2 separate regions of the Homo sapiens genome follow, and region 2 is linked to region 1. The links come from fine-mapping of genetic effects on gene expression. A gene starts in region 1. The other region holds a variant in brackets. All regions are shown on one strand. Distances are between the middles of the regions. Region 1 holds the start of PDZRN4 (PDZ domain containing ring finger 4). Region 2 has its middle 190 kb from the start of GXYLT1.

Region 1 (5,387 bases):
GCTCTTTTATCCTAATGCAGTATCTAAATCTGATTTCACTGCAATTGAAAACAGATTTCTGGTTAAACCTTGGAGGTATCTTTATTTTTCCCTCCATTACAGAAAAGTAAAATATAAATTATCAATAGTGTAAAATTTTTATTTTGTAAAGTCTTAAGGAATTTAAGAAACACTGGAACTATTTATAAATTATAGTCATAACATTCATGTTGCTGTTGTAATGCAGGATCTGTTAGGCTACTGTAGTCCTAATTTTAAATAATATTCCTATTTGGTTTTGCATAATTCCTGCAGAATAAAAAAATAAGGGTTTGTGCTAGGTAAAGTAGTATGTATTTTTTCCTGCTGGCCAAATAATAGTAAAACAAATATGAATTATAGCTACAATGTTTATTAGTAAAGACTAACTTACACATAGGATGAATTAGTGCTGGACTAGGTGGGTTTATTCATGGTTGTAGATGTTATTAACCTTTACTTGGAAACTATTTCTGAATGATAACATTCAGAACATATGCATCATCATCACTGCTATCAGCATCAAGATATTTTCCCAGGAGCTTTTCCCAGGCAATGCGCAGAGCAGCCCCTACTGGTAGTAGAAAAACACTTCTGAGGAACACATAGAAGGTTTTGGCTAGTCTGCAAATCATGGGCAGTTTTTCTCACTTCTCAGAATCATAGCTTGACTTGTTGCATGGACTTTTCTGTAATATTATTCTAGCTGTTCCTCCTTTCCTTCAACCATTGGTTTCCTACGACCTTGAAACCTGGACTGGTAATACAAAGCTTCTATCTGTGCTTTTCCCCGGGTCCTCCCGTTTTGTAAATTTACCTGTATATATGCGTATATGTATATGCATATATGAACTAGAGAAATACTCCTTGAAACCGGTCGTTTAATACACAACGTGCTTCCATTCATCAAGGTAGAAACATTTTAGTCCCTCTCACTTCAATTTTCTCTTTTACGTTCAAGACGGGCGCTTCTAAACTCAGTGCCTGAGTTAGAGGCAGTGTGGAGCAGCCAGTCCCAAATGGGAATCTTTCTGGGTTGCTCCTCCCCGGGAGTGCTGAAGAATGAAAACAGCTCCTTGAATGGTGCGCAAATTCTGCTAAATCCCTGCTCACCATGGCAGCGACCAACAATGTCAGACACTGTGCAGAAGTCCTCCAGGAGAGAAGTAACAGCTTTATAAACAAGCCTCTTCACACGGGATGCTGCAAAGAGGCTTGTTTATTCGGTATGAAAGCCGGCGGGAGGACCAGGAGCGCAGTTCGGGGCCAGCAGCTTAGACAAAGAAGGGAAACAACCGCTGCCTGGGGGCTCGCAGGGCCGGTCTGACCACAGATGGAGGTTCTCGGACTGGACTTCCCAGGTCGCACACACACAATCTCAATCTCTCTCTCTCTCTCCACCAATAATGAGATCCCGAGGCAAGGAAGGCTTATTTAGGGAAAGTCAGAGTGATGAAATGAACTCTGCAAGTCTAAGAAACCCCATCTCTCAACTCCTGAGGCTGTCCTGGCCCCAACGTGCCTCACAGTCCCCAACTTAATAGAAGGCAGTTGATTCAGGCAGTGGCAGCGCAAGTGTCATCAACGCTGACACCAGTCCCAGGTGTGCGTGCGCGGCTGCCAGGGCCGCGGGGATGCTGGTGGCCGCGGGAGAGGAAAGGCTGGGCCGGGAAAGTCTTCGCTTTCTGTCTTTCCTTCTCGGATTTGCTTCAGGCACGGGACAAGTGCTCAAAAAATAGGCAGAGACGGTGGGCAGGAGGGTGAAAGATGGAAAACGAGAGTCTGGATGGAAAATGAGTTTTCACAATTCCTACTTTCCCGGGGGAAAGTTAGAATCGAATCTGTTTAACTCTTTCCAATCGTAATATAATCAGAAAAGGGACAATCCTTAACTTCGACGCCAATCCATTCGTAAGATAATGACAGGAAAGTATGATCAGGGTGTGGATGTTTCCTGCTGCATAGTGAGGAAGGATGCCCAATTCCAAAGGAATCCTGAAGCGTCAGAAAGAACCGCTCCTTTTCCCACCCCAATCGACCATGCCCGCGGTGCCCACCCCCCTTTGCTTACCCTGCGGTGGCCGCCACCGAGGTCGCCGACGAAGTTGCGGACGTGAGCCATGTATTGGGTGAACTTCTCCTGGTACCTGCGCGCCGTGAGCTGCACCTCGCCCTGCAGCGCCCAGAGCTGCGCCAGCAGCGCCTTCTCGCGCCGCCTCCAGGCGAGGACCCGAGGCCCGGGTCCCCGCCCGCGGCCCCAGCGGCCGCCCGGCGGCCCCCCGCGCGCGCCCCCGCCCCGGCCAGCCCTGGGTGTCGGACCGCAGCCCCCCCGCGCGGGCACCTCACCACCGCCCAGCCCCGAAGCGCAGCCCCCGCGGCTGCGGAGCCGGCGGGCAGGGCCGAAGTCGCAGTGCTCGACGTGCGCCTCCAGCTCGTGCAGCCTGACCGAGTGGCCGCAGCCGCGGGCGCGGTAGTCGCACTGGACTCGCAGCTTCTGGATGAGGCTGCGCAGCGGCAGCACCCGGTACAGCTCGCCGGGCGCCAAGGGCTGGCACTGCAGCGGGCACCGGCGCCTCCGCACCGCCCAGGGCAACAGGCAGCTGGCGCAGAAGACGTGCCCGCACGGCGTGCACAGGGGCTCTTCAAGCACCTGGCCGCACAGTTTGCACTCCAGAGCCGGGTCCACGGCTTCTGCGAAGCGCTCCAGGGCAAAGCCCATGTTAGGGATGGGGAAGAAAGGGGGAGCGAAAGCAGAGTCCGTCTTCTCCGAGCCCCCCTGCCTTCCCCGGGCCACCCCCGGGGCAGCCGTCTCGCGGCGGCGGCAGTGGAGGGAGGTGGCGGGTGGGAGGTGTGATCTCACTGTTTGTTTGGCTTGAAGTTTTCAGGCTCCTGCTAGGTCCCCTGATTTCGCCCGTATTGACGCTAATAGAAGTAACCTCCAGAGACCCCCGCCTCCTTCGTTGCCCTGCGATTTATGTTCTTTCAAATTTTGGCCGCCCAGCTTACAATGGTCCTTGGGAACACTGTGTTCTCCTTCGCCTGAACAGTGAACTTCAAGCATCGAGGCGCCTCGCCCTGGGCAGGGCTGCTGATGGGTAAAGCGCTAATGTTGAGAAACAACTTTTAAATTCACCACAATGTAAGCTTCGGGAGAGCAGAATCTTTTTGTCTGTCTGGTTTTCCGCTGAATGCCCATGGCCCGCCCGGCGTCGAGTCTATCTCCAATATGTTTGAAATCGAAGCACTTTTGTTCTTTCACATCAAAACTACAAAATCAGAAGTTAGGAAACTGTGACCTTAGGAAATCACTATAAGGAAAATAACACTAGGAAATCCACAGGGCCAGGCTTCTCAAACCGTGATCCAGAAATCAGGTGAGTTAGAATGGCGCGATCCTTGACCTAGCAGCAAAGATGGGGAAAAAGTCAAGGGCCCGCCTCAGGACACTGCCTTCTTAGGGAGCCCATGAACAGCCATGCAAGGCCTCCTCCCGAGTGAGGAAGCTGGGATTCTGAGTCTGACTCCAGGTTCAGTTGCCACAGCATCCATCTTCTACTTCCACGGGCGTTTTACTACTGGGGACGGGAATGTGATCATTTGGGAACCTGGAAGGGAAAATTAAAGGGAAGGATGATGAAAGAAAGCAGTGAAATAACATATAAATAAAATCTTAGTGGCTGCTTCCTTCTACTTACCCTGAATGAACCCTTTGGATCCAAATTGCCTCCCCTCCTAGTTTGACTCCTCAAATTGTGTAGCATGACAAGCCGTCCTGAAAACACGCAGTAGGGCGTCATTCCAAACCCTTCTTACTCCACTTCCTTTACCATCTTCTGAACCTTAGGAATGCAGAGATCCTGTCACCTGGCTGCATATCACTTACTGCCATTATCCTGAAGCTGCCACCAGATGCTTGGGTGGGTTTTATAAATTAATCATTGATGATTCCTTGCTGCCAGTTGAGCCTTGTTCCTGGAAAGCTTGTAATTCTCTATGACACCAAATGGCATCAGTTGGAATTGATGAGAACAGCTCCAGACTTTGTCTTTTAAATCCTTGGAGCTAACTGAAGAATTAGCAAAGACTAATAATAGAGGCTAATAACCTTCTGAGCCTTCTTGCTGTTTGAAAGATGAGATTTTGTTAGTTGTTCAATAACCAGTGATGATTGGTGTGCTAGATGTTTGATATGCTTTTAAACTCTTTTTCAAAATAAGATGCTATATTTCTCATTTAATATATATAGATTCATATGTGATAAAGTAACATTTGCCCCTATGTTCCAAATTTCCCCCCTCTTTCGACCTGTCTTTCTACAAATAAATAAGCAAACAATGAATTACTGATTAAATAAGAAATCATTTAATATTAACAGCATGAAAATATTTTTGTGAATTGCATAAACTGGAAATACATGTTCTAGAATTTATTAAAATACTTCTGGGCAGGAGAAATCTATTCCTTTTTTTAGCTATAGAAAAAGTTGTGACTTACAGCTATAAACATTTATAATTATAACCATGCATATACAGTTATAGCTATAGCTTGACATTTATTGGTTTTACAGTAAACACAATGACACTGACAGCATTTTTAAAAAGAGAGAGAAGAGATGGAATCCAAAAATATTATTTTGAGACATGAGACTGTTAGGACCATGAGACTTCAGTTACTTGGAAAAAAAAAAAGTTCATATGATATCCTTGGTATACCCATGCAATTCCTATAGCAAAAGTAAGGAGCATGAGCAAATTATGTTATGACTAATTCCAGGATGCATAACATTTTTATTATTAAAGTAAAGCAGATGTCAAAAACGTTGTCCACAGAGAATAGGAAGTTCCAAAATGAGGGCATGTAAAGTGAAACTGAGTAATGAAATAGGCCAAACAGAACAGGAAAATCTTTTACGTAATAAAATAAAAGCCTAAGCATTTCCAAAAGAGCTAAGTATAAAGAAAAAACATGACAAGAATTGAACTCTAAGAGAATGGACACACCCAAGTGAACCTCATAAACTTTTGCCATCTGGAAACATTGTGGCATAAGTCTGTGACATCAGTTGAGTCAGATAGTCTCGTTTCACTTCCCAGACTGTAAAATATTTTTCTACATATTAGCAAAATTGTAATATCAGTGAAAAGCTTGAGTGAGCTAGGAATATGGAGCCTAATTAAATGGAAGTAATTAGCTTGGGTAAACAAAGAAAGCACTTTAAATGAGTTTAATATATGCACAAATATTTCAGCAAAACAGACCCAGTAATATTTAGATGCTTTTTGGCAAATTAGACAAATTAACACCTTGCATCTTTAGCTTGGGCATACTCTTATGTTTTCACTGATCATAATTGTCTATCATCTAAACAT
Region 2 (5,387 bases), 770 kb before region 1:
TTTTTGTACAGGCAGGGTTTCACCATGCTTCCCAAGCTGGTCTTGAACTCCTGAGCTCAAGCAATTCTCCTGCCTCAGGATCCCAGAGTTCTGGGATTATGGGTGTGAGCCACTGCACCCAGCCTTACATATATTATTTTTACTCTTCACTCAACTTAGTTAGATGACACTCTTATTTCCATTTTATCGATGAGAAATCAGAGAGGTTAAGTGACTTGTTGATGCTACATAGTAAGGAACTGAGGGGGCTTCACACCTGGGTCTACAGTTTCCACAGCGTGAGCCTTTACTGTGTTCCCTCCCACATGGTAGGTCTTCAACAATGGTAGATATCCTGCTCCTTCCATGAAGGTTTGTAACCGAGGGTCTGAAAGAAATGATTTCTTCTTATTAAATAAGTACAGTTAGATAGAAGGAATAAGATCCAGTATTTGGTAGCACAACAGGGTGACTACAGTTAACAATAATTTATTGTATATTTTAAAATAACTAAAATAATGGAATTGGAATGTTCTTAACATAGAGAAATGATAAATGCTTGAGGTGATAGACACCTCAATGGCTCTGATTTGATCATTACACATTGTATGCCTGTATCAAAACAGCACATGCACCCAACAAATACATACAACTATTATGTACCTATAATAACTAAAAATACATGTTTTAAAAGGAAGGATTATTGCATAGTTTACACATTCATTACATATTTGTCTTGCAAAAAAAGATTATAGATTTATGACTTCCAGGGAAAATAAAAGCTTACAACCTTCTATACTGACACTCTATGAAGCTGAGTGAGGGATTCTGGATGTTATTAGTCACATGATCCTAATGACATTGTTCAGAATTGAAGGTTCTTGCTATATCCTTAAATATTCCCTTTCATTTTTTTTAAAAAAAAAGGTTTCTATTTTGATATAATTTGAGCTTACAGAAAATTCACAAGAATAGTACAAGGAACTTCTATATACCTTTTATCCACATTTGCCAAGTTTATACACGCATATTTTTCTCCACTTGCTTTATAATTCTGTGTATATAATTATATACATATATGTGTGTAATCCACAGTGCAATGATTTAATCCACATCCACAGTGTGTGCTGTTGTGATACAGGCATATAATGTGTAGTGACCAAATCAGGGTAAATGGAGTATTTTACATACATATATGTGTGTATATAAAATATAGATAGAATTTTTTTCCTGCACCACTTCAGAGTAAGTTATAAGACCTCAGATACATCATGTTCCTTTAAGATTATATGTGGTAGTGTGTCTTTCCTTTGAACAAGGAAACCTCTGACAATAACCACGGTATAATGATCAAAATCAAGAGTTGTAACATTGACACAGTACAATGATTTAATCGACAGTCCATATTCAAATATTGTCCATTCTCCAAGATCAGTCTAGGATCACTCATTATTTTTAATTGTCATGTCTCTTTACTGTCATTCAGTCTGGAACAATTCTTCAGCCTTTGTGTTTTTGACTTTGAAATTTTGCATAGTACAGGCCAGTTATTTTGTAGAATATTGCTCAATTGACTTGTGTGATATTTCCTTATGCTTAGATTTGGGTTACAGATGTGTGGCAAGAAAACCATATAGGTGATGTTGTGGGCCAGGCACGCTGACTCACGCCTGTAATCCCAGCACTTTGGGAAGCCGAGGCGGGCAGATCACCTGAGGTCAGGAGTTTGAGACCAGCCTGGCTAACATGGTGAAACACTGTCTCTACTAAAAATACAAAAAAATTAGCTGGGCACGGTGGTGTGTGCCTATAATCCCAGCTGCTCGGGAGGCTGAGGCAAGAGAATTGCTTGAACCCAGTAGTGGAGGTTACAGTGAGCTGAGAACGTGCCACTGCACTCCAGCCTGGGCGACAGAGAGGGACTCAGTTTAAAACAAAACAAAACAAAACAAAACAAAACAAAACAAAACAAACAAACAAACAACAACAACAAAGAAGTGATGTTTGTTGTGTCTTTCTCAGTGCATTATTGTATTGGGATGCCTATGATGTTGATTTGTTCCAATTTCAGTATTGTTAAACTTTATCACTTGCTTAAGATGACGTCTGCAAGATTTTTCCAATGAAAGTTACTATTTTTTCTTTATAATTAATAAGTAATTTATGGGGAGATGCTTTGAGATTTTGTACATATCTTGCTCTTCATCAAATTGGTTTGCTTACCAATTTTAGCATTCGTTAGTGATTTTCTAACACCCATCCTTTATTTTATATGCATTAGCATTCTACTGTCAGAAAATGTTTTCCCTTGTCCTCCATTAATCTAACTAATTATTTATTTTTATCAGTATGGACTCATGGATTCTTATTTTAGTCAATGAGTCATAATTCATTACTATCACTATTTATTTTGTTGCTTTAAATGTCTTGCATGTGGTCAGTGGAAATCTGAAGCTGGCTTTTGTGTCTTTTGGGCATGTTTCCATCATTTTTTTT[G/TG]GAACACTTTTGTATTTTCTCGCACAAGATGTTCCAGGCTCATTTTGTACTTATTCTGCCATAACCCTGAAATCAATCTTTTTTTTCCCACAGAGCTTTGGTTCTTTTTAGGGGAGAATGCTAAATAAAAACCAAGCTCTGGCAGGTGTTAATACCGGAGTGCAATTTACTTCTAGTGTAAGTAGCTCTCAGTGTACACAGCTAGGAAACACACATGCACACACACATATTTATAGTTATTTCTCTTCTACTTATCATCTATGTGTTAGAAATCCTGGGTTATTTCTCATACCTCCAATTCCAACTCAACATCATAGGCTTTTTATTGCAGCCTTCCCCTTTCCATATTTGTAACTTTCATCTCCAACAGTGAAAAACCTGGCTGCCACTATCCAAAATATTTACTAATTTATTCAGACTTAGAAACTAGTGCTAGAATTCTTAACTCATACTATTGCCAAAAGTAAACCTATGTACTAGAGTTCAATCTTTATTTATAATTATTTTGAGGATAAAAATTGTATACAATCACAGGCATAAATCTGGAGTCCGATTTGCTGAGTTTTGACAAATGCATGCACCTGGATGTCCTGCATTCCTATGAAGATATAGACATTTAAAAAATCATTCCAAAAAGTTCACTTGCACCCCTTTCTAGTCAATTTTTCCAGAATAAACTAATTTACACATTTGTTTTACTATAGATTAGTTTGCTTTTTAAGTGGAATCATAGAGTATGTATATATTTTTATATTTCATTTTCAATTCCTCTACAATTTAACTGTGCTTCTTTCAGCATTTTTATAGTGTAGCTCTACATAATTATTTCTAAATCTGAATGCTCATTTTCATATTTACATGAAACTCTGCTCTTATTTAGCAGGATTGCTAAAGCAATTGTAGTGAGAGAAATTGTCTTACTATAAAAGAATGCTAGAAAAGAATGGAATCCTGCTGATCTGAAACTAAAAACTCTGGGAATTAATTTTTATGAGACCCAGTATAAAATTGGTTGCCTAAATGAGATTATCATCATACCACTGAGCTACTGATCATCATTTAGATTCCTCAAAATCCACATCAATTCATCAGGCATATGTTCACTTATTCTGATATTCATTCACTCATTTAGAAGTATTTATTCTAAATACTTCTGACCACATCCTAGATACTGTTCCAACTATTGGAGACCTGGCAGTGAAAAACTAGGTAATGTTCCCCATTCTGCTGGAGCTTCATGTATTCTATTTCCAGTGCTCTTCATTTTCTTTTTTTTTTTTTTTTTGAGACGGAGTCTAGCTCTGTTGCCCAGGCTGGAGGGCAGTGGCATGATCTCGGCTCACTGCAAGCTCCGCCTCCCAGGTTCATGCCATTGTCCTGCCTCAGCCTCCTGAATATCGGGGACTACAGGTGCCCGCCACCACGCCTGGCTAATTTTTTGTATTTTTAGTAGAGACGGGGTTTCACCGTGTTAGCCAGGATGGTCTTGATCTCCTGACCTCGTGATCCACCCGCCTCGGCCTCCCAAAGTCCTGGGATTACAGGTGTGAGCCACCGTGCCCGGCCTATTTTCTTTTTTTTCTTTTTGTTTTTTAATGTAGATTGAGGTTTCAGTCTGATATTTTTATGGACTGAATGTTCGTGTCCCATGAAGTTCATATGTTGAAGCCTTAACCCCCAATGTGATAATATTTGGAGATGGGGTCTTTGGGAGGTAATCAGATCATGAGGGTGGGGCCCTGGTCTGGTAAGATTGCTGTCTTATAAAAAGAGACCCCAGAGAGTCTGCTTTCTTCTCTTTACCATGTGAGGACACAGCAAGAAGGCAGCCGTCTGCAAGCCAGGGAGATGGACCTCTCCAGATCCAGAACATGCCGGCATCCTCATCACAAACTTCTAACCTCCAGAACGGTGAGAAAATAAATCAATGTTGTTTATGCCACGTAGTCTGTAGTATTTTGTTATGGCAGCCTGAACAGACTAAGACAGATATCATACTTCCTTCAGTACTTCTCATAGAGTTAAGTATGCAGGCAATGGCTTCCCTCAGTTTTTATTTATCTGAGAAAGTATTTCTCCTTCATTTTTGAAGGAGACTTTTGCTGGGTGTAGAATTCTGGTTGGCATTTAAAAATTTCCAGCACTTTAAAGATGTCACCCCCTTGTCTTCTGTTTTGTACGGTTTCCGATGAGAAGTTGGCTACAATTCTTATCTTTGTTCCTCTGTATGTAACATGTCTTTTTCTTCTCTGGTTCCTTCAAGATTTTTTCTTTTTCTTTTCTTTTCAGTAATTTGAACGTGATATACCTCAGAGTAGTATATAAGGGAAATAGAAGCCTCATCTTCCTTGTATGTGGCAAGAGAATTCCACCAAGAAGCTTTCTGCTGTTTGATATATGTTGGTCCCTTGCCTGTGGTGCCCTCCCTAACCCCTAGTCCTCATCAAATCCTATTTAGGTATTAGGAGCTAGCTCAAGTCCTGAGTTTGTGAGACTAGTAGATACCATGCTGTATTTTCTTGACCTACAAACCTTTTCTCCTTTGAACTAGACACATTTTAGACTAAACTTGTTTTTTATTCTGTAAAATGATTTTAAAATGCTTTACCATCCACAATCTTCTTAGACATATTCTCTTTACTTCTAAAAATTAGTCCAGGATTTAAGCAGTCTTTTTTTTCCTGTTTGTTTTTTAGTACATTGTCAAGTAAAACCTTACAGGTCTTTCCTCTATTAGTATAATTAATTTATTCAGCTCATACGATTAACTTAATTAGGTTGTTTTCCTTTTTAATAGGTGAGCAGGAAGGTGAGAGGAGGAAGGCAGGTAAGGGCTGGGTGGCTTTGTCAGTGTGTAGCCTGCACAGTCACACTGGGCCCACACTAAGAGGGATCCTGTGCTTGGTTTTATG

What was found. PIP is the estimated chance that this variant, and not a neighbour inherited with it, causes the effect. A credible set is the group of variants that fine-mapping cannot tell apart.
Region 2: its variant is the best candidate, but not a certain one, in a credible set for the expression of PDZRN4 in aorta (GTEx, PIP 0.62).

What each region holds. Positions count from the first base shown.
Region 1 is chr12:41,185,806-41,191,192 of GRCh38, reverse strand. PDZRN4 (PDZ domain containing ring finger 4) reads right to left here and starts at 2,873. Exons shown (of 10, transcript NM_001164595.2): 1 at 2,090-2,873. The coding sequence starts at 2,737. LOC124903069 (a long non-coding RNA gene) reads left to right here and starts at 2,961. Exons shown (of 2, transcript XR_007063563.1): 1 at 2,961-3,392; 2 at 3,863-5,387.
Region 2 is chr12:41,953,663-41,959,049 of GRCh38, reverse strand. No RefSeq gene overlaps it. Among named protein-coding and RNA genes, the nearest start is that of GXYLT1, 190 kb to the left of the region's middle. The variant G/TG (reference allele first, on the strand shown) is at 2,476.